Regions from separate parts of the Homo sapiens genome. Here region 2 is linked to region 1. The links come from fine-mapping of genetic effects on plasma protein levels. Region 1 holds a variant in brackets. A gene starts in the other region. All regions are shown on their forward strands. Region 1 overlaps CAPN2 (calpain 2). Region 2 holds the start of DTX3 (deltex E3 ubiquitin ligase 3).

The links. PIP is the posterior inclusion probability: the model's chance that the variant is causal. The UK Biobank Pharma Proteomics Project read protein levels with antibody pairs (Olink). The fine-mapping took linkage between variants from a reference panel, not from the people measured, so its PIPs are less certain.
Region 2: it holds the start of DTX3, and the variant in region 1 is fine-mapped to the plasma level of the DTX3 protein (UK Biobank, PIP above 0.99).

The regions. Positions count from the first base shown.
Region 1 is chr1:223,724,333-223,740,613 of GRCh38, forward strand. The region is part of intron 2 of CAPN2 (calpain 2); the gene reads left to right. It overlaps LOC105373046 (a long non-coding RNA gene), which reads right to left. Exons shown (of 3, transcript XR_949169.3): 1 at 15,557-16,281; 2 at 14,654-14,783; 3 at 14,130-14,452. Among named protein-coding and RNA genes, the nearest start is that of CAPN2, 20 kb to the left of the region's middle. RefSeq lists enhancers at 3,159-3,819, 7,197-7,792, 9,567-10,427, 13,997-14,512. The variant C/G (reference allele first, on the strand shown) is at 8,411.
Region 2 is chr12:57,604,502-57,615,665 of GRCh38, forward strand. DTX3 (deltex E3 ubiquitin ligase 3) reads left to right here and starts at 323. Exons shown (of 7, transcript NM_178502.4): 1 at 323-357; 2 at 1,070-1,230; 3 at 1,689-1,751; 4 at 1,942-2,017; 5 at 2,364-3,112; 6 at 4,019-4,236; 7 at 4,576-5,301. The coding sequence starts at 2,017. The coding sequence ends at 4,651. ARHGEF25 (Rho guanine nucleotide exchange factor 25) reads left to right here and starts at 6,934. Exons shown (of 15, transcript NM_182947.4): 1 at 6,934-7,490; 2 at 8,429-8,643; 3 at 8,763-8,858; 4 at 8,939-9,015; 5 at 9,193-9,259; 6 at 9,515-9,618; 7 at 9,830-9,899; 8 at 10,015-10,104; 9 at 10,188-10,280; 10 at 10,466-10,516; 11 at 10,736-10,813; 12 at 11,011-11,164. The coding sequence starts at 7,394. RefSeq lists enhancers at 1-204, 205-717 and a silencer at 6,827-7,346.

The DNA of each region.
Region 1 (16,281 bases):
GATTGAGCCCCAGGAGGAGGTGGCCTGGCCAGCAGGTGTGCAGTGAGGCCACTTCTAGACCACCCCTGTCCCATAGAGCTTCTAGTGATGATGGAAACCGTGTATATCTGCACTGCTCCAAACAGCAGCACTAGCCCTGTGTGGCTGTGGAGCACTTGAAATATGACTCATGCAACTGAGAAACTGAATTTGTAATTTTATTTAATTTAAATGTAAATAGCCACATGTTCCTTGTGGCTGCTGCACTGCACAGCAGCAGACTGTTGCGCTCTGGAATCCAGCCTCTCAGCCTTTACTCTCCAAAGCGGGATAGTATTCACATCAGAGCCAAACAATGCACAGACGTCAATAAACAGGCAGGGCATGGTGGCCCATGCCTGTAATCCCAACACTTTGGGAGGCTGAGGTGGGAGGGTCCCTTCAGCCCAGGAGTTCAAGACCAGCCAAGCAACATAATGAGAACCCATTTCCACAAAAAAAAATTTTTTTAATTAGCTGGGCATGGTGGTGTGCACCTGTAGTTCCAGCTACTTGGGAGGCTGAGGTGGGAGGATCACTTTGAGCCCAGGAGGTCAAGGCTGCAGTGAGTCGTGATTGCACCATGACATTCTAGCCTGGGTGATGGAGTGAGACCTTGTCTCAAAACAAACAGCTAAACCTACATCAATAAACATCTGTAAATATCAGGGTAGCGAATGAGGACTTGGTGTCTGGCAGTTAGGGACTGGCCTCTTATTCTGCCACATACTGGCTCTGTCATTTTGAGTGGATCACTATCCTCTTCACACCTCAGTTTCCTCATCCGTGAAATGAAGATAATAATAGTGCCTACTATCAAGACCATCCTGGCTAACACGGTGAAAACCCATCTCTACAAAACTACAATATGAAATACAAACAATTAGCCGGGCGTGGTGGCATGCACTTGTAGTCCCAGCTACTCAGGAGGCTGAGGCAGGAGAATCGCTTGAACCTGAGAGGTGGAGGTTGCAGTGAGCCATGATCGCACCACTGCACTCCATCCTGGGCAATAGAGCGAGACTTCATCTCAAAAAAAAAAAAATTGTGTCTACCTCAGAGGACTGTAAAGATGAAATGAAATAATAGACATATAAAGCTCAGAGCTCCAGAGGCTGGTACATAGTAAAGGTTTAATCCATGCAGATTGCACGTTCTCTTTGGGGACAGTACAGCTGGAGGGGAGTACTGTCAAATGAGGTCGCGTCGCTGAGGTGGAGACACATTGTGGCACATCTTGAATACCCGACTGGGTCCCAGCTTTAGCACTTGACATTGGCGGCCACCTAAGTTTTGGAGAGGGGTATGACAGAGGAGGTGGTGTCCCAGGGGGAAGGTCCGGAAACTCAGAGGAGTTTCCTGCTGTAATTTTCTTTGGTCACACAATGGTCATGGCCTCCTGATGTTTCCCACAAAGGGCCAGAGGCCCTTCAGTGCCAAGGAACGTGGACTCTCTCCTATCCCAGCACATACACGTGCTTCCAGTACCTTGTGATCTCTAGCCATAAGTTTCCACTCACCCATCTGCGAAATGGGAACAATGACGATGTTTGCGTCCTTTCTTTTTCTTTTCCTACAATGCAGGGAACTTTAAGACTATGTGACAGAAAGGTGCCACTGGAACCCAGGGCCTCGTGGGTTTCCTCCGTCTCTCGGGAGACCAGGATCCGAGTGAGAAAGTTTCCCACGTTCATTCTTGTTGGGCCCATTCTCAGGATGATGTTTCTCCTGTATTTTGCTACCCCAGCCCAAGCAAGACTAGTAGTTCAGCTTTGTGAATCCCCTCAGGAAGTCAGGAAAATAGATACTGTCTTTGGGCTTCCTCCAGGAGCTAAGAAAGGAGAGTTCCTGAAGAGCAGGAATTTAAGACAGGAATTGGCAGCCGAGGGCAAGGTTCCACCTCCTCCTCCCTTCTTCTGTGGGGTCTGTGATGAGAGCAGGGATGGGGAGGAAGAGGGTGGGTTTGCCTGCGCCTGGGGGGAGGGCAGCCATCAGGAAGGAGCAGCCACCTCTGCTGGGGTACTGGAGATAAAAACTCTGATATTGACTAGTGACCGTGGGGGCGATGGCCCAGGAGGGTCAGGGCTGCAGGGAACAGGGACACAAAAACGACAAAACATGCAACAGGTTATGTCCTTCTGGTCCAGGGCACGGCTGAGACAGGCAAGGGACTAGAGAGAGGAAGAGTGAATGTCAAGCCCCAGCACCCTCGCCTCCCTCCCATCCTCCCTTTTAGGGCCTCCCTTCTGGCAGATAGGGCAGGGAGAAGGGAAAGGAAAGGCCTGGGACACGTGGTTTGGATCACTGGCTGTGGCTCACAGTTCTGATGTGTGTGCAGTTTAGGGAAGGAGGCTGAAGACTTCTTGTTAATAAGGGTGGGGCATGAGTAAAATGGAGGATCTGCCCCCTCCCCTCCCAGCCCCTGATACAAATGAAGGATGATTGTACATGCATGGGGAATTCCACTTTGGGGGTATCCTTTTCTGGGCTGCTGCCAGACTCTGAAATGAGTAACAAAGGGATGGCCCAGGGTGACTCATCAGCTACCCTCTCGCAGGCCTAGCACGCTGGCGGGGTGTGCATTTCCTCTAGAGAAGCCCCTCCCTGCCAGTTTCAGAGGGATGGCCCTGAATTGGCTTTTCAGAGGTTCCTTCTCCTCCCTTCCAAAGCGAAGACCCACAGCTGCCTGAAAATGTGGCTCTCCGCCTTCTTGGGCTGCCTAGGACCTTGAGAGATGTGTCTCTCTGGGACAGGGTGTCAGGTCTGCTGGAGATTGTTAAAATGCTGTTGTCTCAGGAAGGGTGAAATTTAGCCAGGAGCAGTCTTCAGTAGCTTGGTCTGTTTATCGTGTATCTAGCTGTCAGCATGCAAAACAAAAGAACAAAAGGTCTAAAGAAATATAACGCAAAACAGGTACGATTTGAGATCCATCAGGGTTTCTCAACCTTGGCACAACTGACTGGATAATTGTTCATTGTAGGGGGCTGTCCTGTGAATTATAGGATGTTTAGCTGCATCCTTGGCCTCTACCCACACACCCCCGTGTGCCACTCAAAAATGTCTGCAGACCTTGCCAAATGTCCCCTGGGGGCTTGGCGGAGTTGGGGGGTGCATGGAATGCCCCCAGTTGAGAACCACTGGCAGAGCAGGAGTGAAGGGGGAGGTACTGTGGGGGTCACTGGGCACACAGAATGCCATTTGGGGAGCCTGGTGCAAGGGAGTGGCCGGATGGGAGGTAGGAATAGCAGTGGTAATCAGTAGGTGAGTTGCTGAAGACAAACTAAATATTCTTTCCAGCATTGCTTCAATCTAATCCAGCCGCAAGTATGAGTAAATACTGTAGGAAAGGAGAAAACATTGCATGTACGGGGTCAGGGCAGCATTGCTGGGATATTTGAGCCTGTGGGAGGGGAGCTTCAAGCTTCCCACTAGCATTGGGAGGAACACAGCAAAGGAGGAGAAGGGCCCTCCCTGCTTCTTGGAGAATGGTTCCACTGGCAGGCCATTCCGTCTGCTCAGCTTCCTAGCTCAGGTGCCTTTCCAAACCACACATCAGCAGGGAGACAGTGGGAACATCTCAGGTCCAGGGTACCTTGGGAACTGCAGAGCAGCTGGGTGGCCTGACACTGGCATTTCTCAGTGTTGGCTCCATTCTCTTGCTGGCACCCCCAGGTGGGAGACTCTGTTAGCAGGTGTATCTTACTATCCCTGGCTCCCTGGTATGCGTTACAGTTCAGACTCCCAAGCACAAGCTCCCTGTTTTGTCACACCTGTATCTAGTGTGTAACAATCCACCCCAAAACAAATGGCTTGAAACACAAGGCATTTTGTTCTCTCTCATGGTTCTGAAGGATGACGGGGCTGAGCTGGGCAACTCTCTCCCGCTCTCTCAAGTGGTTGCAATCAGATGGGGATGGGGACAGAGTCATCTGTAGGCCCCCTCAACCACATGTCTGGTGCCCGGGCTGAAGGGTGGATCAGCAGGGGTCCAGGGATCTCTGTCTCTTTTGTGGTCTCCCCATCACAGGGACTTGAAGGTAGCTGAACATCTTACAGCAGCTCATGTCCCAAGAGAAAGACCTGGGAGCTGTCTCATCTTTACGACCTAGGCTTGGAAGTCACATAGCATCACTTCTGCCATATCCTATTCATTGAGATCAATGAAGGCTCACCCAGGATCAAAGAGAAGGGACATGGAGCCCACTTCTAGATGGAGAGTGGCAGGGTTCTGGAAGAACATGTGAAACCAGAAACATTGTTGCCACCATTTTTGGAAGACACCACGATTCCTCCCCTTTGAATAATGGCCTTCTTGTCCTTTACCAGTAATAACCCAAGCTGCTTGGACATTAGCTCTTCATGGTTTGCGGGGTGGGGAGGATGTGTTTTCTGGGACTTCCCAAGGTACACAGTAGTGAAGGACTTCACAAGCTGGGCTGATGTGCCAGCTTCAGGACTCCACTCACCCCCAAGCGTTCTGAGATGCCCATGGGGCTCAGGAGCCCTGACTTGCACAAGCCAGCAACTGCCTTTCTGCTTCCATTCAGCCAGCTTTACTGGGCATCTGTTATAGGAAGAGCAGTGGGCTGAGACTTCAGCAAAAAAGACAAAAGCAAAACACAATCCCTTCTCTATACAAGGTTCTTCCCTTTCTGTGTCCAACCAGTCCCTCCATTCTCGGTCCTTAACTCATCACCAAGCCGCCATTTTCTTCTATTCCCCCATTACTCCAAGGCGGGCCTCAGTTCTCACCTGGAGTCTGGCTCAGGATGCCTACAGGTGGCCCCAGAATTGTAATGGCTTGACATGCAATTTTTCAGCTTTACAATGGCATGAAAGCAATACACATTTAGTAGAAACTGTACTTGAAGTACCCATACAACCATTCTGTTTTTCACTTTCAGTACAGTATTCAATAAATTACATTGAGTTGTTCAGCATTTTATTTTAAAACAGGCTTTGCCTCCTTAGATAATTTTGCCCAACTGTAGGCTACTGTAAGTGTTCTGAGCACAATTAAGGTAGGCTAGGCTAAGCTATGGTGTTAGGCAGTGTCAACAAAATAGTCAAATTCTGTGAAATATTTAAAGAGTTTATTCTGAGCCAAATATGAGTGACCAAAGCCTGTGACAAAGCCCAAGGAGGTCCTGAGAACCTGTGCCCAAGGTGGTTGGTTTACAGCTTGGTTTTATACATTTTAGGAGGACATAAGTTACAGGCAGACATCAATCCAGAAAGGCGGGACAACTTGAAGTGGATGGGGAAGGCACAGGGGCTGGAGGGGGCTCCGAGTCACAGGTGGATTCAGAGATTTTTCTGATTGGCAGTTAATTGAAAGCATTAAGTTACTATCTAAAGACCTGGAATCAAGGCCGGGTGCGGTGGCTCACACCTGTAATTCCAGCACTTTGGGAGGCCAAGGCGGGTGGATCACCTGAGGTCAGGAGTTCGAGCCTGGCCTGGCCAACATGGTGAAACCTCGCCTCTACTAAAAATGCAAAAATTAACTGGGCATGGCGGTGTATGCCTGTAGTCCCAGCTACTCAGAGGCTGAGGCAGGAGAATCGCTTGAACCCAGAAAGTGAAGGTTGCAGTGAGCCAGGATTGCACCACTGCACTCCAGCCTAGGAGACAAGAGCAAGACTCGCTCCCAAAAAACCAAAAAAAAAAAAAAAAAAAAAAAAACGAAAACCTGAAATCAGTTGAAAAGTGTGCCTGGGTTGAGATAAGAAGTTGTTAGAGACCAAGGTTTTTATTATGTAGATGAAGTCTCACAGAGGGCCACTCTCAAAGGCAATAGATGGCAAATGTTTTCTATTCAGACCTTTAAAAGGTGCTACTAGATGCTCAGCTAATCTCTTCAGGATCAGAAAAAGACCTGAAGGGAAGGTGATTCTCTACATCAAGCTTGTCCAACCCTCGTGCTGCCCAGGATGGCTTTGAATGTGGCCCAACACAAATTTGTGAACTTTCTCAAAATATTATGAGATTTTTTTTTTTTTTAGCTCATCATCTATCATTAGTGTCAGTGTATTTTATGTGTGGCCCAAGACAATTCTTCTTCTTCCAGTGTGGCCCAGGGAAGCCAAAAGATTGGACACCCCTGCTATAGAATGTAGATTTTCCCACAAGAGACAGCTTTCAGAGACATTTCAAAATCTGTCAGAAAAATATATTTTGGGCTAAAATACTTTGATTTCTTTCAGGGCCTGCTATCTGTCATGTGATGCTCTACTAGAGTGTGGTTGGAATTTGGTATCTTATTGCTAGGAAGAGTCTGTTTTGTGAGTCTTAAGATCTCTGTTTTCAGTTAAGGCTGGTCAGCTGTGCCTGAATTCCTAAAGGAGGAGGATAAAATGAGGCATGACGGACCTCCCTTCCCATCGTGGCCTGAACTTGTTTTTCAGGTTTACCTTGGAATCCCCTTGACTAAGGGGGCACCCATTCAGTTAGTTAAGGGGCTTAGACTTTGATTTTTAGTTTACAGTAGGCTGAGGTGTATTAAATGCATTTTCGACTTGCAATATTTTCAACTTCTGATGGATTTGTTCAGATGTAACCCCGTTGTAAGTTAAGGAGCATGTATACTTGTATCTAATCCACTTTGGGCATTGCTGCCAGAAAACCTGTCCTCAGGGAGCTATGGAAGTAGTGGAGGCAAATTATTAAATGGATGGATTAATTCCAAGTTCAGATCATGTTGGGAGTCAGCTGGGAGTCAGTGTGAGGATCTGGGAGGGGAACAGTAAGGGGTTAAGAGAGATACCCCAAAGGATGATTAAGGAGGGAGAGTTGGAAGGAAGGTTTCCCACAAAGAGGAAGCAGGGAGTGATTCATTCTGAAAAAGGCAAATATTTTATTATGCTTGGAGGGTCTGGTGCAGAAGGGGAAAGGAAGAGAAGGAAGTTTGGCTTAAATTCCCTTAGGAGCCAGTTCAGATTCCTAAGCTGGCCCGGACATCCAACCCAATCCGCCTAGCCCCAGCCCTCTCCAGTTCCCAATGCCCAGCCCCACAATGCCCGTCCTGCTGCCTGCCTGTTCTGGACTCTGCACTTGACCTTCCCTCTCCCTGAAAGTGCCCCTGCTCTTCCTCACCCAGCTCCCCGCTCTAAGCCTTCCTCGCCCACCCCAGCCCTCCTACAGTCCCAGTCTGCCCTGTTCAGACTCAAAGCCTCATGCTCACCACCATCATCCACAACCAGTTTCCACGTCTGTCTCCTGCCGGCTGTGAGCTCACTGCCTCAGAACCAGCGCCAGTCTCCTCTAGACTGAGTACAGGCCTGGCACGGAGCCAGGAATGCACCAACAAGGAGCCTGAGACTAGATTGGAGGGGAAAGAGACATGTCCTCCAGAGTTGACTTACGCGAGGACAGAGGTGTGCAGAGGCACGGCAAGCTGGGCCCCAGGCGAGAAGCATGGAGTGAGGGATGTGGAGGCAGCGGAAGGCATCTGGGAGTCTGGGCTGCCCCGTAGCAGCTCTGTGTTCTGCCTGCTCTTCCTCCAAGATGAGCTCCCTTGGCCAGTGTGTGAAACGTGTGTGTGAGTGTGTCACCGGTAAGCTGAGTTCTTTCCCTACTTGGTATCAGTTGCAAAGAAAGAACACTCAGTTGGAAAAAAAGGCAAGAGGGTTTTATTCCTGACCAGGAGAAAGAGAAGGAGGGGGCTCTTGCTCTAAAGACACCTTCACCCCGAGCCATGGAAACTGGGGAGTTGTAAGGAGATAGGTGTGGGGCAGGGAGGTGTGTAAGCAGGTGTGGGGTCACGGTGTGGGGGTGGAGACCTCTAGACGCTCAGGCCCAGGTCATAAACATGCCTCTCCATACAATGCAAGATGTGTTACCAGAAAGGGGTCCTGATCTAGAACTAAGAAAGGGTTCTTGGATCCCGCTCAAGAAAGAATTCAGGGTGAGTCCATACAGTAAAGTGAAAGCAAATTTATTATGAAAATAAAGGAATAAAAGAAAATCTACTTCATAGAGCAGCCCTGAGGGCTGATGATTGCCCATTTTTATGGTTATTTCTTGATTATATGCTAAACTTCTTGATTATATGCTAAACAAGGGGTGGATTATTCATGCCTCCTCTTTTTAGATCACGTAGGGTAACTTCCTGATGTTGCCATGGCATCTGTAAACTGTCATGGCTCTGGTGGGAGTGTAGCAGTGAGGACGAGCAGAGGTCACTCTTGTCACCATCTTGGTTTTGGTAGGTTTTGGCCGGCTTCTTTACTGCAACTGTTTTATCAGCAAGGTCTTTATGACCTGTATCTTGTGCCGACTTCCTATCTCATCCTGTGACTTAGAATGCCTTAACTGTCTGGGAATGCAGCCCAGTAGGTCTCAGCCTCATTTTACTCAGCTCTTATTCAAGATGGAGTTGCTCTAGTTCACA[C/G]GCCTCTGACACATGTTCAGAAATAATGGTGATTTTCTTCTACAGGTGGGGACGTTAGCATTATAATGACATGGTAAAGTTCTGAAGGTAACAAGGGGTTGCCTGTTCCAGTTTCTGCCAGTTTTGGGGGTCTTATCTCCCTCTGGTATCTGGGCAGAGGTCAAGAAGCTCTGGCACCATCAGGGGCCAGCTTGTTTCTTTAAGCAGCTGTGCCTACAAATAAAGGGACTAAAGAAAACAATAAGAAAACCCAGTTATTTCCTGGGGGTTGCTCTGGTATCCAGCGTGTTTTACTTCACCAAGCGCAATTCTTCCCAGTGCAGGCACTGGGTGTAACTGTGACAGCCAGCACCAACCTGCCCACACACCTCCTGTCCTGCAGGACTGTCAGCAGCCTCTGCACTATAGTGTGACAGAGCCACAGGTAGCTCAGGTGTGCCTCAGCCCAGCCTCTCCTGCACTCCCCCTCCCCTGGCTCCCCAACTCTGCCTCACTTCTGTTTGTGAAGGAAAGACAGCAGTAGCGGAAGGGAAAGAAGGAGAAAATGCAGAGCAAATATTATGCTTTCCTCTTGGAAAACCTCCAGGAGCTGCAAATATTAGTAATCCAGCTGCATCCCACCCCCCAGGATGGGCTGGGCCTGTCACACAGCCAACCTTCAGGATGCAGACACCCAGGCTGGGGAGCACAGCTCTGGAAATTTACTGACATGGCCCTGAATGAATTTATCTTTTCAGTAGAAGGCCCTGGAGTTTAAAGGAGTCATTCATAAGGTCTGTCTGGGAGTGCCTTGTCCTCAGAGGAGGGTCTGGGTGGGTTGGAGTGGAAGGAAGGGCTGGCTACCTGGTGTGCTCTCCGTGGGTCCCCAAGAAAGGCAGCCCTGCTGGGGGCAGTGAAGCCCTTATCCAGGTCACGTGAGTCTTGGAAGGGGAAGGCTGCTGTGCTTAACGATTCAAAAACACAAATCAAACCTCCTTTCCCAAACAAATTAGAAGGTGTGGAGGAAGCTTGAATTCAGAGAGGATTTCCCAGAGACCCATAGGCAAAAGTGGCTTAACTGAGCCCAGTGGGTGTCCCAGAATGGGCCAGAGAGAATGACACTAAAAAGTCTTTGAACAAATGAGCAAATGAATACAGGAATGCTCATCTGCCATAGGCACAAACGTGGTAAACGTTCCCTGAGAGAACTGACAGCCCAGGGGTGCAGGGAGAGAAACGGTCCCAACTGCAGACTGGGTCCCAACTGCAGACTCGGTCCCAACTGCAGACTCAGGAGGAGGGAGGCTGTTAAGGGGCCGTCTTTCCTTCTGTTATGTGAGGAGAAAAGCAGGGAAGGGACCTCAAGGCCAGCCTCTCCCAGGAGCTGCTGTTCTCAGCCCCGGGATCCAGCGCTACAGGGAAGTGCAGGGGAGGCTCCACAGTCCCGGCTGGAGACCCGGTCAGGCCTGGGTGGCCACTCTTCTTTGTAGTGGCCACCCTCGTGTCACCAGCAAATGCTTTTGTATCTACACCCTTCTCAGTGCTCCCCCTCTTTTAAAAAATGTACTTTCTTTTTTTAAAAAGAGTTGGGTCTTGCCTTGTCACCTATGCTGGAGTGCAGTGTTGCTGTCACAGCTCACTGCAAACTCCACCTCCTGGGCTCAACCCATCCTCCCACCTCAGCCTCCCAGGTAGCTGGGACCACAGGCACACACCAGGACACCTCGCCCAGTGCTCACTATTTACCTTTATTTCTTCCTTATTCGGACACCCCTTGCTTCCAAAGAAGAGTTTCGGAAGGCTCAAGACGGTGAGACAGACACCTTATGCACTGCTTCACTCTCCCCCGCAGCTCCCCTCCCTCCTCACTGACCCCCGGCCACAACCCTCTCTCCTTGCCCCTCACCAGCCGGCACCCTTGGCAACCCTGGCACCCTTTCGAGGACAAGACTGCCAAATGTGGCCAAGGTCTGGCACACCATGTACCAATCGAAACTCCACTTCCCTTGAGTTTCAGTTTCCACGCCTATAAAATTAGCAAATGAAAAGAGCAAACACTTGGAGACACTGTTCTCAATGCTTTGCATATTTTTTTCATTTAATTCTCAGTGCCATGAGACAGTCTATTATTATTAAACCTATGTTATATATGAGGAAACTGAGGCACAGAGGGAGTAGTTTCCCCAGGTCACAGTCAGGATTTGAACTCCATGGTCTGGCTCTAGTGTTTCCCAACCATTCGGGGTGGGAGTGGGAGAGAAACCAGACTGCTCTCCCTAGAAAACAGCATGTGTTTGCATGTGTGCCAAATTTGCACAAAACATTTGGGGTTCCAGGTCTCTAAAGCCCATCCATGGAACCCCGGTTTCCCTTCTCTCACGTGATCCTAACAACCTGCCGAGGATACACCTCATCATGATCCTCCTTTCACAGCTGAGAACACACCAGCTTAGAGAAATTAAGAAGTGTATCCAAGCTCACACAATCTTAAGTGGCCAGATCAGGACCAAAATCCAGGTCCTCTGGCTGGGCGCAGTGGCTCATGCATGTAATCCCAGCTCTTTGGGTGGCCAAGGCGGGTGGATCACCTGAGGTCAGGAGTTCAAGACCAGCTTGGCCAACATGGTGAAACCCCATCTCTACTAAAAATACAAAAATTAGCTGGGCATGGTGGTGGGCGCCTGTAATCCCAGCTACTCAGGAGGCTGAGGCAGGAGAATTGCTTGAACCCAGGAAGCAGAGGTTGCAGTGAGCTAAGATGGAGCCATTGCACTCCAGCCTGGGCAACAGAGTGAGACTCTATCTAAAAAAAAAAAAAAAAAAATTTGTGGTCTTCTAACCACAAATCTAGTGCCCCTCCCCAACCACCTCTGGTCCAGCCTCTTAGATCTATCTGGGATGTCTTTCCACCATACTCCTTTCTGGTTTGAGAACCACCTGAAGGCTCAACGTGGCTGTGGGGTGCTCCGTGGAGCCATTTGGCCTGTGCCCAGCAGCGAGGGGGACAGCCAGCAAAGGTACCCCCGCCCCTGCCAGCCTGCCACCTACTTGGGACGTTTCTTTTCTTTTTTTTTTTGAGACGGAGTCTCGATCTGTTGCCCAGGCTGGAGTGAAGTGACGTAATCTCAGCTCACTACAACCCCCACCTCCTGGATTCAAGTGATTCTCCTGCCTCAGCCTCCCTAGTAGCTGGGACTACAGGCGCATGCCACCATGCTCAGCTAATTTTTGTATCTTTAGTAGTGACGGGGTTTCACTATGTTGGCCAGGCTGGTCTTGAACTCCTGATCTCGTGATCTGCCCACCTTGGTCTCCCAAAGTGCTGAGATTACAGGGTGAGCCACCGCACCCAGCCTACTCGGGACCTTTCACCACCCAAGTGACCAGCACCCCTGCCCAGAGTGCCCCGGTTCTGTCCACTAGGCCAGCAGGGACCCCGCCTCTGGGATTGTTTGCTGGAGGGGTCCTGGACAACGTAGAAAGGGCAGCACACAGCCCTGGGCAGGAAGGGAGGCAGGAAGAGAGATCCTCAGGGGCTGGGCTGGAGGAGCAAAGCCAGCCAAAGGGGAGTGAGAGGGCAGTCAAGCGCCTAGAAGCCAAGGAACCCCAGGAGGATGGCATCGGGCAGGTGCCTCCTGGTGCCCAGAGACAAAAAGATGTGTGGGAAGGTGACAGAATCAAGCGGTAAGGTCAGTGCTTTGAGGGAGCAGGCAACCACCAGCCTCCAGTGACACTTGCCTTTCACAGGGATCCTGGAGGTCCCCATTTGGGAAGGTGGAAAATCTCAGTTCCAACCTAACCAAAAGATACAGGGGCAAGTTTGGCCTTGAAACCCTGGACCATCTGCCCTGGGTGATTTCCTTTCAACAGTGCTGGGTCCAGACTCCCAGAACCCTACCTCTCCCATCTTCCCCAGTAAGCCTGCTTTCAGTCCTTTTCACACGAGAGCATTTAAATCCAAGGGTTCCCTTCCCCCTGGGTATTTGCAGCCCATCTGATCTCTAAATGTAGAGTGAGAGCCACTTGTAGAAATTAAGTCTAGGCTGGTCACGGTGGCTCACGCCTGTAATCCCAATACTTCGGGAGGCTGAGTCAGGAGGATCACTTGAGACCAGGAGTTTGAGACTAGCCTGGGCAACATAGCAAGACACCTCTACAAAAAAAGTTTTTTAATTAGCTGGGCATGGTGGTATGTGCTTGTAATCCCAGCTACAAGGTGAGGTGGGAGGATCACTTGAGCCCGGGAGGTCAAGGCTGCAGTGAGCTGTGATTGCACCACTGCACTCTAGCCTGGGTGACAGAGTGAGAACCTGTCTCAAAAAAAAATAAAAATAAGAATAAAGAAATTAAGACCAGATGTAGGGGAGATTTGTGGAGGAAGGGACAGGAGGCCCCTAAAATCCCATCCTGTAGGCAGCCCCTGCTTGACTAAGCATAAGGCTCGTGGGGCACCCAGGTGGGCTTTTTCTGGAGAGGAAGCAAGGCAGAAAACCCCTCCATTTTCCATCCCCAGCCTCTCAGGTCTGTGCCAGTTGAGTGTCTTCCAGGACAGAAGCATGGCTGGGTATGGAGGCAGCCTGGATATAGGGATGGCCGGTCTGTCAAGCCCGTGGTCAGGACCTTCACGGGGCAGCTTAGGAACCTCCAGGCAGGGCCTCATCTGCTGCCGTTAGTAATAAACATGGCCAGCAACAGCCAGGGCCCTGCTAGCGGGAGATGTCATCGGTAGCCACCTTCCTTCTCTGCAGAGACACCGTCTGTCCCATGGATGAGCAGAGTCCCCTGGGGACCCAGCTCTGACACTTGTCCTTGCTCATGTCCAGGGTGCTGGACAGACTGAGGCAGGTGTCAGGCTCCTGGGATGAGAAAGGCAGATGAGAGATGGGAGTGGGAGCTTTACAGTGACTTAGGCAGAATTGCTTAGTATTTACATATGCCTTACCTCATTCCACAGAGAATTTAAGGCCTGACCAAAAGAGACGGGGCGGGGGGTGGGGGGGAGAGAATACAATAACACCATGTACTGTAAAGAAAAACAGTCAGTTCTAAAAGAAAAACAACCCAGAAAGAAGGGAATGTGTCAAAACCGGGAGAGGGGAAAAAAAAAGGCATGCATGCTTTCAAAAGCACCTTAGGGGCTACAGATGGGCCCTATACTTAGTGTTGACACCCAACAGCCATAAAAGAATCTCACTGTGCCCCCAGGGGAGCACAGGGAAGGTCTGATTCTAGATTTTTTCTGTGCCATTTATTTATCTATATCCTCATGCACAAGTTCTATACTGTTTTAATTGCTGTAGCTTTTTATGTGTTTAAACATCTAATAGAGGTAGACTTCCTTCTCTTAGATTTTTTTCTAGCTATGCTTCATATTTAATTTTTAAATAAACTTATCAGAATCAGCTAAGTTCAAAAACAATTTTTAATCTTATTACCTTTTTTTTTCTTTTTTGTGAGACGGGGTCTTGTTCTGTCACCCAGGCTGGAGTACAGTGGTACAATCATAGCTCACTGCAGCCTTGACCTCCCAGGTTCAAAGTGATTCTCCTGCCTCAGCCTCCCAAGTTGCTGGGACGATAGAAGCATGACACCACACCTGGCTAATTTTTTAAAAATAATTTTTATAGAGACAGGGTCTCACAGTATAGTGAGATTTCAGGGTGGTCTTGAAATCCTGAGGGCTCAAGAAATCCTCCAGCCCTGGCCTCCCAAGAGCTAGAATTACAGGCATGAGCCACCGTACCTAGCCCTATTGCTATTTTTATTAGCATTACATTAAGTTTATAGGCTAACTTAAGAGGACATGGCATTTTTATGATAATGAGTTTTTGCAGTCAAGAACGCAGGCCAGTTTTTTTTAAATGGGGTAAATGATTGTCCAAGCGCCTCCAGGCAGGCTCACGTGCACACTCTGGAGTCAGTGAAGAAGGTGAACAGCTGACAGGAGCAGCCTCCCAGTCAGAGAAGCCCTGCACACTGTTGCAAACAGACAGCTTGCATCTGGAGTCTTCTGTGATCCGAGGAGGAAGCGTGGCTGAGTCCTTCCCAGAAGAGGGTCTGGAGCTGTGAGTTGGGGACAATTGTCAGATTCTAGCAGTGAAAGTGGTTCATGTGCAGGTGCAACCTGCCCCGCAGTCACGGGACACAGCCACATGGAGCCGAGCCACGCTCTCAGAGAAGGAGCCAGGGAAGAAACACCCTAACTGCACTCCTCCCTTCTTCTGGCCCCCAGCAGCCATAGGCCCTGGGCCCCCGGTGAGATACCCATAGAGATCAGCTCCCAGGCAGCAGGATGGAGGGTGTAGACTGGACATGAAGAGGCAGCTGGAATGTATCGGGCACTCAGCTCCAGCTCACCACGATCCAGGCACTCAAGTTCCCAAGACAATAGTTTCTGCTCTCAGATAAATGGAATAATTAAGGATCAAAAGGTTATCAACAGGTAACCAAGCATAAACAGATTTTTTTTTTTTTTTTTTTTAGACAGAGTCTCACTCTGTGCCCCAGGCTGGAATGCAGTGGTGCAATCTGGGCTCACTGCAACCTCCACCTCCCAGGTTCAAGTGATTCTCATGCCTCAGCCTCTCCAGTAGCTGGGACTACAGGCGCGTGCCAACATGCCTGGCTAATTTTTGTATTTTTAGTAAAGATGGAGTTTCACCATGTTGGCCAGGCTAGTCTTGAACTCCTGACCTCATGTGATCTGCCCACCTCGGCCTCCCAAAGTGATGGGATTACAGGTGTGAGTCACCATGCCTGGCCCATAAGCAGATTTTGTACCTGAGCAGGAAGGCTAAGAGCTTGTAACAACTGAACATTCCCCCCGGAGAGGAAGGCAGGAGTTTTGCTTGTGCCAAGTGCACTGTTCAGACAGTCCTCTGAGGTACACCAAGGTCTGAGTAGCCATCCCACCCTCCCCTCTGCCAAAATTTTTGTGTGACTGGAGAGCAGAGCCCTCCTCCAAAAATAAAATGAGCACAAGGAAAATACTATTTGCAGATACATAATATTAAAACCATAGGTCTTTCTTTTTCTAGTCCCATCCATATGGCAACATTCCAGGAGAGGCCTCCGTCACTGGAAGGCACCCTCAGGGGCTTTCCTGGAGCTAAAAACAGTTTAAGCCAAAAGTTATTTGTAGCATCTGAGTTAAACTCTTCGTCTCACCCTTCTCGAGCTAGCTGGCTTATTTTATCCGGACCAGGATATAACAGCTCTAAACAGGCTTTGCCAGGAAGAGACGTCATGGACTTCAACCAGGGCACCTGACCAGGAAGAAATCACTGCAGGATGATCTGAAAGAGTTTTCATAAATTATTTTACGTAAGGTAGATTCTGACCTTGATGGGGACAGCCAAGGTTCTGGACCCTCAGCTGGGAAAGATGGGACTAAGTCTACAACTGCTGAGGTTGTAGAACAGGCTTCTTGTTGGGAGGAACCCTCTTGTGGACATGGGCCGTCGAGGTGGAGTGAGAGAACACCGTGCCACCTGGACGCTGAAACACCATTGAGTCACCTCTGTTTGAAATGCTTGTTCCCTGGTGCCGTAAAGAAATAGCACTTGAACATAAATTTAATTTACTCAGCAAGGACATTTTTATACTTTCTGTGAAAGGGTACACTCACCAGGAGTTTTGCCACGAGAGTACACCAAACAAAGGAGACAGGGTCATTTATAACCTGACGCGTCCACCCTACTGCTGTGTCCAGTTTCCATTGGCTGGAACAGGACCTCCCATTCTGTATTTGTCCCGATTGGCTAACAACTTAGAACTTTTTAAAAGAGGCAAAGGCAGAGGAGAACAAAGGAAGGAGGAAGTAACTTGTGGAATGCTGAGAAAGGTAAAAACACCTTTAGATAAGGAAGAGGAACAGGCTATGACCTAATGCT
Region 2 (11,164 bases), not on the chromosome of region 1:
AAAAGGGAGAGTGCTCCGCCGGGAGCGGGGAGCGAGTAGGGTGGCGTCTCCAGGGATTTAACCTCCTACCCTCAGTTCCATGACGCCACCCCCTCCCTCCAAAGACTGGGACAGCGCCTCCATTTTTGTTTTGGGGAGGAAGGGCAGGGGCTTGCGGATAGAAGGGGGTCAAAGGAACGGTGATTATCACCTGTGAGGGGAAAGGGGGTGCTGTCCTCCCTCCTTCCCTTTTCCTCAGCCTGCACCCCCTGCAATCCCCCACCTTTCGGGGTCTCCCCCTCCTTGTTGCTAAGGCCCGGACCGTCATCCCAGCAACAGCCTCAGTCATGTGACCGGCAATGGCGGCGCTGACGAGAGGTAGGTGAGCCCGGCGCCCCCCACACCCACCGCGCGCCCCCCGGGCCCCGCTCGCACCCCTCACGCGCCCCCCGCTCCCCCGGCGCCCCCTCCTCCACCTCCCCTCCCCGCGCGCGGCTCCGGGCTCCCCGCTCCGTGCCCGGCCGATCATCTTTCTAGCACCCTCCAGCCTTGGCCTCCATTCGGGGGTTCTGAGGGCTGCGATCGGGCCGACATGCACCCCCACCCGGCGGTGGGGATCCGGGGGCTTTGGCTACTGAGGGATGTGGGGAGTTGGTTCCGGGTCGGGTCTTGGAGGAGGCCGTGGGGGGAGGGCGGGAGCTGCTTCAGTGGATGCCCCCAGGGACCCTTGCCCATCCGGGCTGTGCCTCCCTCTGGCCTCTGTCTGGAGGGAGAGACTGGTTCCTTGTCCGGCCTGGGTTGCCACAGAGGAATCACAGACCCACCCTAAACTGGGGCCCCGCCTCCCTTTTCTGTGCCAGCAGGACTTGGACCTAGGACACCTAGGTCCTGGGTCCCCCGTGATGGGGAGAGAAGTGTTGCATCGCGGATAGACTGTATGGGCTGAGACTCTAGGGTTCCATTTTCACTTATGAATCTCGAGGTGCATCTGGCCTTGGGGGACGATGATGGAGGCATGAAGGGACAGCTGCTCCTTCTTGGATCAGTCAATAAATGGAGGTCACACTAATGGCCCTTCTTTCTGTTTGAGCTGCATTTGGAAGTGTTGTGGAGACAGCCCCGTAGCCCAATGCGACCAGACTCAGGGAAAACATCAGGCCCCTCCAGCTGAGCCCTTGTGTGAGCCCCGCCCCTCCCTAAATGCCAGACTTGGGAGCTGACAGACAGCACTGCCTGTGCTGGGTTTAAAAGGTGACAATGAGAACTTTGTTATTGCAGGGGCTGCTGCCACTTTGTTCACATCCTTAACAGACTTCAGCAGAAGGGACTGAGTTAGCTCTCAAGGAAGGCTCCCTGGCAATAGGGGCTGAATTATTTGGCAATGTGGAGCAGGCGAGGAGTTGGGGAGCATAGGAAATATTCCGGTCCATGTGATCTGAGGGAGGTGGCAAGAAGACCTCCACCTGTGTGGGCGTTTTCTTTCCTGACTTCTCTTATGTGTGCCCTAGGCTTTCTTGGGGGCCTCAGAGCTGGGGAAGAAAGGAGGAAGGTTAGCATGTTGAAGTTCCTTCTTGAGCAACTTGGGGAGAAGCTGATAATGGAATTCTGCAGAGAAGAGAGGAGATGGAAGGGGAGTTTTTATTTCTGGGTTGGCTGAGGGGAATGGTAACATTTGCCATCATAACTTTTTACCCTTCCCCCACTCCCAGTCCTGGTCAGCTGAGTGGAAATAGAAGGATTTCTGCTGCCATCATCTTCCATGGGCTTTCCAGGTATCTCCCCCGCAAGGGATCCTCAATTTTCACCCTTAAACTGGTTTCCTTCATTCCATGTTCCAAGTAATGCCATTCTTAGTAACCTATACCCAGGTTTCTGTCTCTGTTCCATGGGCTGCTGGGTTGGGGGCCATGGGAATTGGGAGAAGGGGTTTCTCACTTTCCTTCCATTTTTCCGCCCTACCAGGTCACACGACCTACAAGTAGGGAGCAGGGAAAGAAGAGTGAGCCTGCATGCCAATTCTAAGCTCTTCAGGATCAAAGTAAGCAAAAAGGAGGGGCAAAGAGTCTCCCTCCCCTTTAAACAGCCCATTTTTCCCCAAGAGGTGGGAGGGGCAAGTTGTTTCTATGATCTGGGAGAAATGACAGGAGAAACAAGACTGATACTTGGCTTAGATGATAATATAGCTCTGGAAACTTTTTTGCTCTTCAGTGGGTTTTGGGTTTGGAAGATAAGGGGAGACAGAATATGAATTTGGGTGAAGGGTTGGGGATTAGGCTTTGAGAAAACAGAGGTAATAGAGGGTTTGGAAGGAACCTGAAGTAGGAGGCACTGATACTTGTCAAATGGGGACCCCCCACCCTGAGTCCCTTTCACCCTGGGGGCAGTGTCGTTCGTCCTGTCCAGAATGGCAGCCTGTGGAGGCACCTGCAAGAACAAAGTGACTGTGTCCAAGCCCGTGTGGGACTTCCTGAGCAAAGAGACCCCAGCCCGGCTGGCCCGGCTTCGGGAGGAGCACCGTGTGTCCATCCTCATAGATGGCGAGACTTCTGACATCTATGTTCTCCAGCTTTCCCCACAGGGTCCTCCCCCGGCCCCTCCAAATGGGCTCTACCTAGCCCGGAAGGCTCTCAAGGGGCTGCTAAAAGAGGCAGAGAAAGAGCTGAAGAAAGCTCAGAGGCAGGGGGAGCTGATGGGCTGCCTGGCTCTGGGGGGTGGAGGGGAGCACCCTGAGATGCACCGCGCAGGCCCACCCCCTCTCCGAGCAGCCCCACTTCTGCCCCCAGGAGCTCGGGGGCTCCCCCCTCCTCCTCCCCCCCTGCCCCCACCTCTTCCTCCTCGCCTTCGGGAGGAGGCAGAAGAGCAGGAGAGCACCTGCCCCATCTGTCTGGGGGAGATCCAGAATGCCAAGACATTGGAGAAGTGCCGGCATTCATTCTGCGAGGGCTGCATCACCCGGGCTCTGCAGGTGAAAAAGGCCTGCCCCATGTGCGGCCGCTTCTATGGGCAGCTGGTGGGCAACCAGCCCCAGAATGGGCGGATGCTGGTCTCTAAGGACGCCACCCTCCTACTGCCCAGCTATGAGAAGTACGGCACCATTGTCATCCAGTACGTCTTCCCGCCCGGTGTCCAGGGGGTAAGAAGACCATGGCCTGCCCTTACCCTTTGGCTTTCCCCAAGCTCTGACCTAGGAAAACCGGGTGAGGGTGAGTGTGCTTGTTAGATGTGAGACAGTCTTGCTGTCTTCCACTGTGCCCTCCTACTCAGTGCCCTGGACCTAGGAGGTCCCCGTGAGGCCCAGCCTTTCCATCCCTGTGATCCCAAGGCACACGTGAAAATCAGATATGAGCTAGGAAAAAAAAAAGCAAATCAGATATGAGAGGAAGGAATTGCATATTATTTCCTTGATGAACACAAATACTGTGCTGACATCTTGGCAGAGGTAAATTCTGTGGAGGTGGTGGCTTAGGGGAAGGGAGGCACAATAGGAAGGGATCTGACCAACCCAACAGAGCCAGGAGCATCACTCTGTAAAAACAGGAGTAGTCAAGGCCTATAGGTGTCTTCCTGCTGGACAAAGAGTAATGTGCAATTCTGGCTGCAGAGGGGTGAAGAAGCTGCACAGAAGAGTGATGGAAAATGGAACAAGTTAGACAGTGGCAGAAACATTAGGAGTATTTTCAGGTGAAGGGAAGGCTGAAAGATAGATTATTCTGTCTTCACATTTTTGCTGAGTTGTCTGGAGTGTAGGGACCAGCTAACTTCCATCACTTCTGAGAATCCATTTGTTGCTGAATGGAGACTTGAGGGATTGAGACAGCAGAAAAAATCTCTTAACACATAAGGATTATGCTCTGAAACAGGCTCTTGCTGCCGAGGCCGTATAATCTCTCCTTCTGTGGAAAGCTGTCAGCCTGTTGCTGCCCCGTTCGCATTAGCTGGGGGTGCTCAGACAGAGACTAGCCTGGATGACCCTCCTCTGGCATCTGGGCCTTAGGATGCCTGGCTGCTCACTGCCCACTCTGCTTCACCTTCCTCCCAGGCTGAACACCCAAACCCAGGAGTTCGGTATCCTGGCACCACACGGGTGGCCTACCTCCCGGACTGCCCTGAGGGCAACAAGGTGCTGACCCTGTTCCGCAAGGCGTTTGACCAGCGTCTCACCTTCACTATCGGCACGTCCATGACCACAGGGAGACCGAATGTCATCACCTGGAACGACATCCACCACAAGACCAGCTGCACAGGGGGACCCCAGCTGTGCGACCCCTCTTCATTTCCTTTCCCTTGGCTCCTCCCCTTTGTTCCATTTCCACTGAGGGACCCACCAACCCCTCGCTCACGGAGCCTCCTAACTGGAGAGAACCACTTCCAAACTGTTCAGCCATCTCAGTTTCTCCTACATTCAACCTGGTCCTGGTGTGCCCAGCTTAGCCTACAAAAATAAGCAGAACTGGGCTAAATTATCTTGGATTTGGAGGTGTCCTCCCTTAGGGGAGGTGGGGAGGTGTCTGAGCCACCTAGAATGAGGGTGAGCATGGGGATAATAGCAAGTTCAAACAGCTAACAACCCTCACCCTCATTTCTCTTTGCTCCCAGGTTTGGGTACCCAGACCCCACCTACCTGACCCGGGTGCAAGAGGAGCTGAGAGCGAAGGGTATCACAGATGACTGAAGGACATCGCCTTTGCCAAGGCCCCTGCTGTCTGCCTCTACTAGGACCCAGCAGAAGCCTCTTTCTCCTCTCTGCCCCCTGCCCCCCACACCACACCTGTAGGGGACCTGTCTGACTGGGAAGGGAGTTCCGAGAGGGAGGGGGCAATCCCTTCCCCCATCCCCCACTGGCCAAGTGTTTCAATGCAGTGTGAGCCACTCCCTTCTGGCAGAGGCCGACCTCCAAGGCTCTGTTCTCCCCTCCCCGTGTACATATACTCCCGGTTTCCCTGCCCCTCCATTGCCCTTGGCTTTTTCTGGTATGTGCTGTGCTCCACGACCAAGCCGAGAAAGGACCTAGGGTGGGGAAGGGAGGGTCTCTTGATTCCTAACCGCCCCCACATACTGCTCCACCGCTGAACTTCGGGTGCCGGGGAGGAGAAATTGGGCTGATGTGAGCTCCCCGTCACCCGCCATGGAGCCGGCTGTGTGTGTTCATCAGATACAGTTCTCCCTTAACCTTGTCCTTTCTCTCCTGTGTCTCAGTCTCCGTCAGTCTGTCTTTCTCCGCTCTTCTCTGACCCCTGTGAGGAACCTCCTTACCCTGTTCTGGAATCGCTGCCAGACTGTAGCTTTTAATTTAATAAAAATAAAGTAAAATATGCAACTCTTTATGCCACACCCGTTCTTTTCCAGGGACTGGGTGGGGGTGGGGTGGGGAGAGGGACCTGCTGGAAAGGGGAGAGGGGATGATGGGGTGATCCCTGCGTGCACTCCCAGTCCCTCTGCCTCCTGAGGACCTGGGGAAACGGGATGCACCAGCGGGCTCTGTAGTAACACTGAGAAACCCTGGGTCACTTCGATGTTGGAATTAGTATTAAGAGGGTGTTTTTTTGTTGTTCAACTATGGTTGTAGAGAAAACAACCCTAGCCACTCTGCGAAGTTTGGCTGGGGTGGGAGTGGGGGCGGAGCCGGGCAGGGGGCGGATTCCGCAGCAGCAACTCCCCGGACGCGCGCAGGCCTCAAAGCCCCCCAGCTTCAGTGCCCCCTCGACCCTGAAACTTGGAGCAGGGTGGGGGTTCAGTATGAAGCCCCCGGACCGCCCCGCCCCTGGCCGCACTGACCGGATACTGGGGGTCATGGGGGGCATGCTGCGCGCATGCGCCCTCCCTGGGCAGGAGGGGGTAAGAATGGGGGCTCGCGGTGGGGTCGGGGGTCTTTCGGGGCCTTCAGGAGGGCTGCACCCACAACTCAACTTATCCGAAAACGAGTTCTGCGGGGCAGTCGCAGGAATACATGAATTCTATTACGAGGGCCATAGCCCCGTTCTGGGCGAGCCTTTTATAACAATGTGGGTTTTGACAGGTAGGAGAAGGGGAAGGGGGAGGTCAGGGCTGCCTAGGAGGGCAGGTTCCTTACAGTGGTTCTGTCCCCGCAGCCCCCAAGGAGAAGCCCTCTAGGGTTGGTGGGTACCGAGCCAGAGTCTGAACGTACGGAGGGAGATCACAGAAGGGATCGCGAACATGAGGTCCTCGCCGGGGCTCTGCAGCCCGGTAAGAAGCTGGGGGTGGGGTGGGGCACAGTTTGCTATCCTGCGCCAAGTGGCGAATTCAAAAATATTCTATTCTTATTAGCATAAAGTTCGCATCTAATTTGCATGAGACCCATTTAATCGCAGAGACCTCCACTCTTCTTGCCTTCGAGTCCAATGTGTGTCCCCCATCCCAGTCGATCCCGAGCCCTCGCAGGCAGAGTGTCCCCGCGCCCCACCCCTGGCCCCTCGCCAGCCCGGGCTCCAGGACTTCGCCTTAATTGGCGATTAGTCTTAGCTGGAGTCCCGGGGCCTGGAGGAAAGAAGGGTCCTGAGAGAGGGCGGCATCTGGGTTGTGTTCACCCACAAAAGACTCCCCATACACGCACCCCGTACCAGGGGGCCTCTGTCCACTCGGCCGGGGACAGCCCCAAACCCAGAACATCTTCGCACAGGCCAAGGCCCCATCCACTGAGTCCTCCTTCATCGCAGAGGCCAAGGGGAGACCTGGGCAGACCCTGCAGACAGGCTGAACCCCGACCCCAGCGCTCCGCAGAGCCCGGGATGCGAGAGGGAGGGGGACCCCGGGGCAGGGGAGCACGGGCTGGGGAGGGGAAAAAGCGCTGGGGACGTGGAGTGGGAACGTGGTGGTGTCTGGGGGAGGGGCGATCGGGGCGGGAACCCGGCGCAGGCAGGAGGGGGAACGCGATGGAGAGGGCGGAGCTGGGCCGCAGAGGCCCCGCCTCGTGGCGGCCCCGCGGCCAGGCCTGTTATTCAGCTCTCCGCTCCGCTGGGACCCGCACAGCGCCAGTGGCTCGGGGGTCGGCCCTCGCCTCCTCCCCGGCCCGGGCCTAGAGCCACCCCTAACCAGAGGCCGGAGACAGCTGGAGCGGCTGCCGCATCCCGGCCCAGCCTCCCCTACCATCCCTCCCCCTTCCACTGGACATCTGGACCCTAGGCCCCCGCACCGACAGGGTTCCGGAAACCCTCCCCGCCCAGCCCGGCGGCCGGGCCCCGCGCCTCTCTCTCTCTAGAGCCCCCAGCCCTCCTCAAGACTAGACTTCCGCCTACCCCTGGACACCTCCTCCCGGTCCCCTCCCTCCCCCCCTCCCACAGCCTGGACCGGGGTAGGAGGGAGGGGGGGTGTGCGCCCGGCGCCGTCCCCGCCCCGCCCCCCGTGATTCCCCCTGCATGGCCGGCCCGGGTGGGGGGCGCGGGGGGGCCCGGGCGCCATGCGGGGGGGGCACAAAGGGGGTCGCTGTGCCTGTCCCCGTGTGATCCGAAAAGTGCTGGCAAAATGCGGCTGCTGCTTCGCCCGGGGGGGACGTGGTGAGTGCCAGGTCGAGAGGGTCCAGTGTTGAGTGGGGGGCGGGCTGGGGGTTCAGGGCATCTGTTTGCCCTGGCCCTTGGGATTTAGGGTTGGAGACTGTATGTGTTTTCCAGGAAAGTGGTTTCTTAAGTGATCCCTAAGGTCCCTTCTGCCTCCAAATTTCTGTTAGTTCAAGTTAAGGAAATAGGGGAAGGGGCAGGGAACTCATCTCTTTCCCTTTGTCAAATGGGTTTGAGAAAAACCCACCCACAATCCCCTTAGGCCTAGAACCGATTATTTTCCTCAAACCTTTTGCTAAGAATCTACTTCTGAAGAGGGACAGGAGAATGGAGGAATGAGAATGAGGTGGTTCTACAAGGGGCTTTATAAGGAATCACAGCTCTCTGTCGCTGAGCACAGGCCAACGATAACCCTGATGGACCCTCCTCACTGGCCTCCTCTATTGGGTCTACGCATGTGTTGGGGAGGTGGGCTGCAGAAGTCTTTTCTTTTTATAGTGATTACTGCAATTGGTGGAGGAGGGGACTGGGAGTGGCAGATGGACCCAGCTCATCCTCCCCTCTTCCCAGAGAATGGTCTGTACCCATTGAAAGAGGGAGGGTTGTAGGAGAGCAGATGGCCACCCCCAGCTTCCAATGTCTGCCCAGATGGCTGCCCCCACCCCCATATCTATGCTATGCTCAGGATATGGGGAACCTCCACATGTAACTGGGGGTTCCAGGCCTGGAGAGCCAGGCGTTTACCTTACTGTGCTTTCTCCCAGGGGTGCCCTGGTGAAATTTTCTATCCTGGCCAACTCAAATGAGGATGGCAAGAGAGTGAGCCCTTGGAGAGAGAGGCTGAGCATCATGAAGAGAAGACCCTGGGAGTTCCCTGGGGACCCTGAGTCTGGAGCTGGGGCAAGGTCTATCACCTCCTCTCTTTTTCCTCCCATTAGAATCCTATTCCATTGCGGGCAGTGAGGGGAGTATATCGGCTTCTGCTGCCTCCGGTCTGGCTGCCCCCTCTGGCCCCAGCTCTGGCCTCAGCTCTGGCCCCTGTTCCCCAGGCCCCCCAGGGCCCGTCAGTGGCCTGAGGAGATGGTTGGATCATTCCAAACATTGTCTCAGTGTGGAAACTGAGGCAGACAGTGGTCAGGCAGGACCATATGAGGTGAGCAGGGAACGGCACCAAAGCATGTGGGACATCTATGAAGGACACTGGCAGAGAGGGCAAGTTGGGGCCACCCAGCTACTGTCCCCGACCTCTGACACTTGATTTCTGGCCCCCAGAACTGGATGTTGGAGCCAGCTCTAGCCACAGGAGAGGAGCTGCCGGAACTGACCTTGCTGACCACACTGTTGGAGGGCCCTGGAGATAAGACGCAGGTGTGAGGACAGGCTCTGGGGAGGCTCCTTTCACTCAAGGGGCATTCGTTTGCTCACCCTAGGATGTTCTTTCCTTCCAGCCACCTGAAGAGGAGACTTTGTCCCAAGCCCCTGAGAGTGAGGAGGAACAGAAGAAGAAGGCTCTGGAAAGGAGTATGTAAGTGTCCACAGCCCTTCCCTGCAGTTGCACAACTTCCAGAAGACTGTCCCTCACATTTTAGATGGAATTTCCTCCAAGGTTGGCTATGATGATAAAGGGGAGGAGGGAGGAACGGGCTGAACCAAGGATGAGCTCCGACGCTGAAGTGGGGGCCTCCTCCTGCTTTCATCCTAGGTATGTCCTGAGTGAACTGGTAGAAACAGAGAAAATGTACGTGGACGACTTGGGGCAGATTGTGGAGGTAGCTCCCTTTACCCCTTCCCAGCCCCTCCTGCCTGCTTTTCCATCTGCCCAGGGCTATTTTCAGGAGGTGCCTGGGCGCTCCTCTGTCCCACCTCTCAAGCCTCCCCACTCCTGGACCTTCCTACTCTGGGGGCAGGGCGGCTCCCACCAGGGAGGGGGAGGTGGAACACACCCTGGATTTGTGTACAGGAGCACCATTAAGGTGGGGAGAGGGCCACCACATGCTCATGACCCAACCTCAACTTTCCCACAGGGTTATATGGCCACCATGGCTGCTCAGGGGGTCCCCGAGAGTCTTCGAGGCCGTGACAGGATTGTGTTTGGGAATATCCAGCAAATCTATGAGTGGCACCGAGAGTGAGTGGTGGAACTCTGACAGCTAGGTGCTGGAGAGGGGCCCTCATCTGGTTGTCCTGTATCCTAACATCAGCCCATTGCGACTTAAGGAATGTTTGGAGAAGTTTTGTAGGGCACACTACCAGGGCAGACAGCTCGAAACTGCTGGGAGTGGGCGAGGTGGGGGTTGTGAAATGTATTTGACCTGCTGCTTCTCTACCAACCCCTCCAGCTATTTCTTGCAAGAGCTACAACGGTGTCTGAAAGATCCTGATTGGCTGGCTCAGCTATTCATCAAACACGTGAGGCTTGAGGGGGCAGGGCCTGGGGCGGGGCTTAGGAATGGGCTGGGATTCTCTGGAGATGCGTCCTCCCTCCTTGCCCACCCTGCTCTCTCTTAAACATTACCCCTGTTAGGAGCGCCGGCTGCATATGTATGTGGTGTACTGTCAGAATAAGCCCAAGTCAGAGCATGTGGTGTCAGAGTTTGGGGACAGCTACTTTGAGGTCAGTAGCTGAGATGTCTTGGTGGGAAGGAGGACAGAACTGGGGCTTTCCAGGCTGCATAACCACCCTGTCCCTGTCCCCAGGAGCTCCGGCAGCAGCTGGGGCACCGCCTGCAGCTGAACGACCTCCTCATCAAACCTGTGCAGCGGATCATGAAATACCAGCTGCTGCTCAAGGTCAGGACCCCCTTTTTCCTGGGGGCACAGCTGGCTGGCACAGCTGTTTCCTCATTCATCTCCCCAGGGTTCTTAGGGCTCCCCCAGACTTCCTGAGGGCCCTCACTGGTGTCCTCAGGGGAGGATGTGAGAGCTTCTAAGGGTGTCCTCGTGACCTCCCTGAGCATTTCTTCTCTCTGTCTTAGGATTTTCTCAAGTATTACAATAGAGCTGGGATGGATACTGCAGACCTAGAGGTGAGGACCCCAGATCTTCCAGGACACACCATGTGCTCCTTATCCTCCTAGTATCTCATGGGTTCCCCCAGCCCCTTGGGTGGTTTACAGCTGTCTGGTTTTTAGGGGGAGGCTGGTTGGGGTTGAGATACCGTCTGAAGAGGCAACTGGCCGAGGAGGCCTCTTTCCCAATAATGACTCTCTTCGCCCAACAATGCGCCTCCCTCACCTGTGTCCCAGCAAGCTGTGGAGGTCATGTGCTTTGTGCCCAAGCGCTGCAACGATATGATGACGCTGGGGAGATTGCGGGGATTTGAGGTACGGAGATAGGGCAAGAAACTGGAGGCCCGATGCTCTTCTGCCCCAGCCCTAGCATTCAGGAGGTCCTTATGGGGAGTTGTCTTCTCCTGGGGCTGACCCCATGGTTGGTTGGGCATGTCAGGCGAGGAAGGGAGGAGCAGAGAATTGTCCTTTTTCTTGTTCTTTTTCCAAGGCCACTATCCTTTTGGTTTCAGGGCAAACTGACTGCTCAGGGGAAGCTCTTGGGCCAGGACACTTTCTGGGTCACCGAGCCTGAGGCTGGAGGGCTGCTGTCTTCCCGAGGTCGAGAGAGGCGCGTCTTCCTCTTTGAGCAAATCATCATCTTCAGTGAAGCCCTGGGAGGAGGAG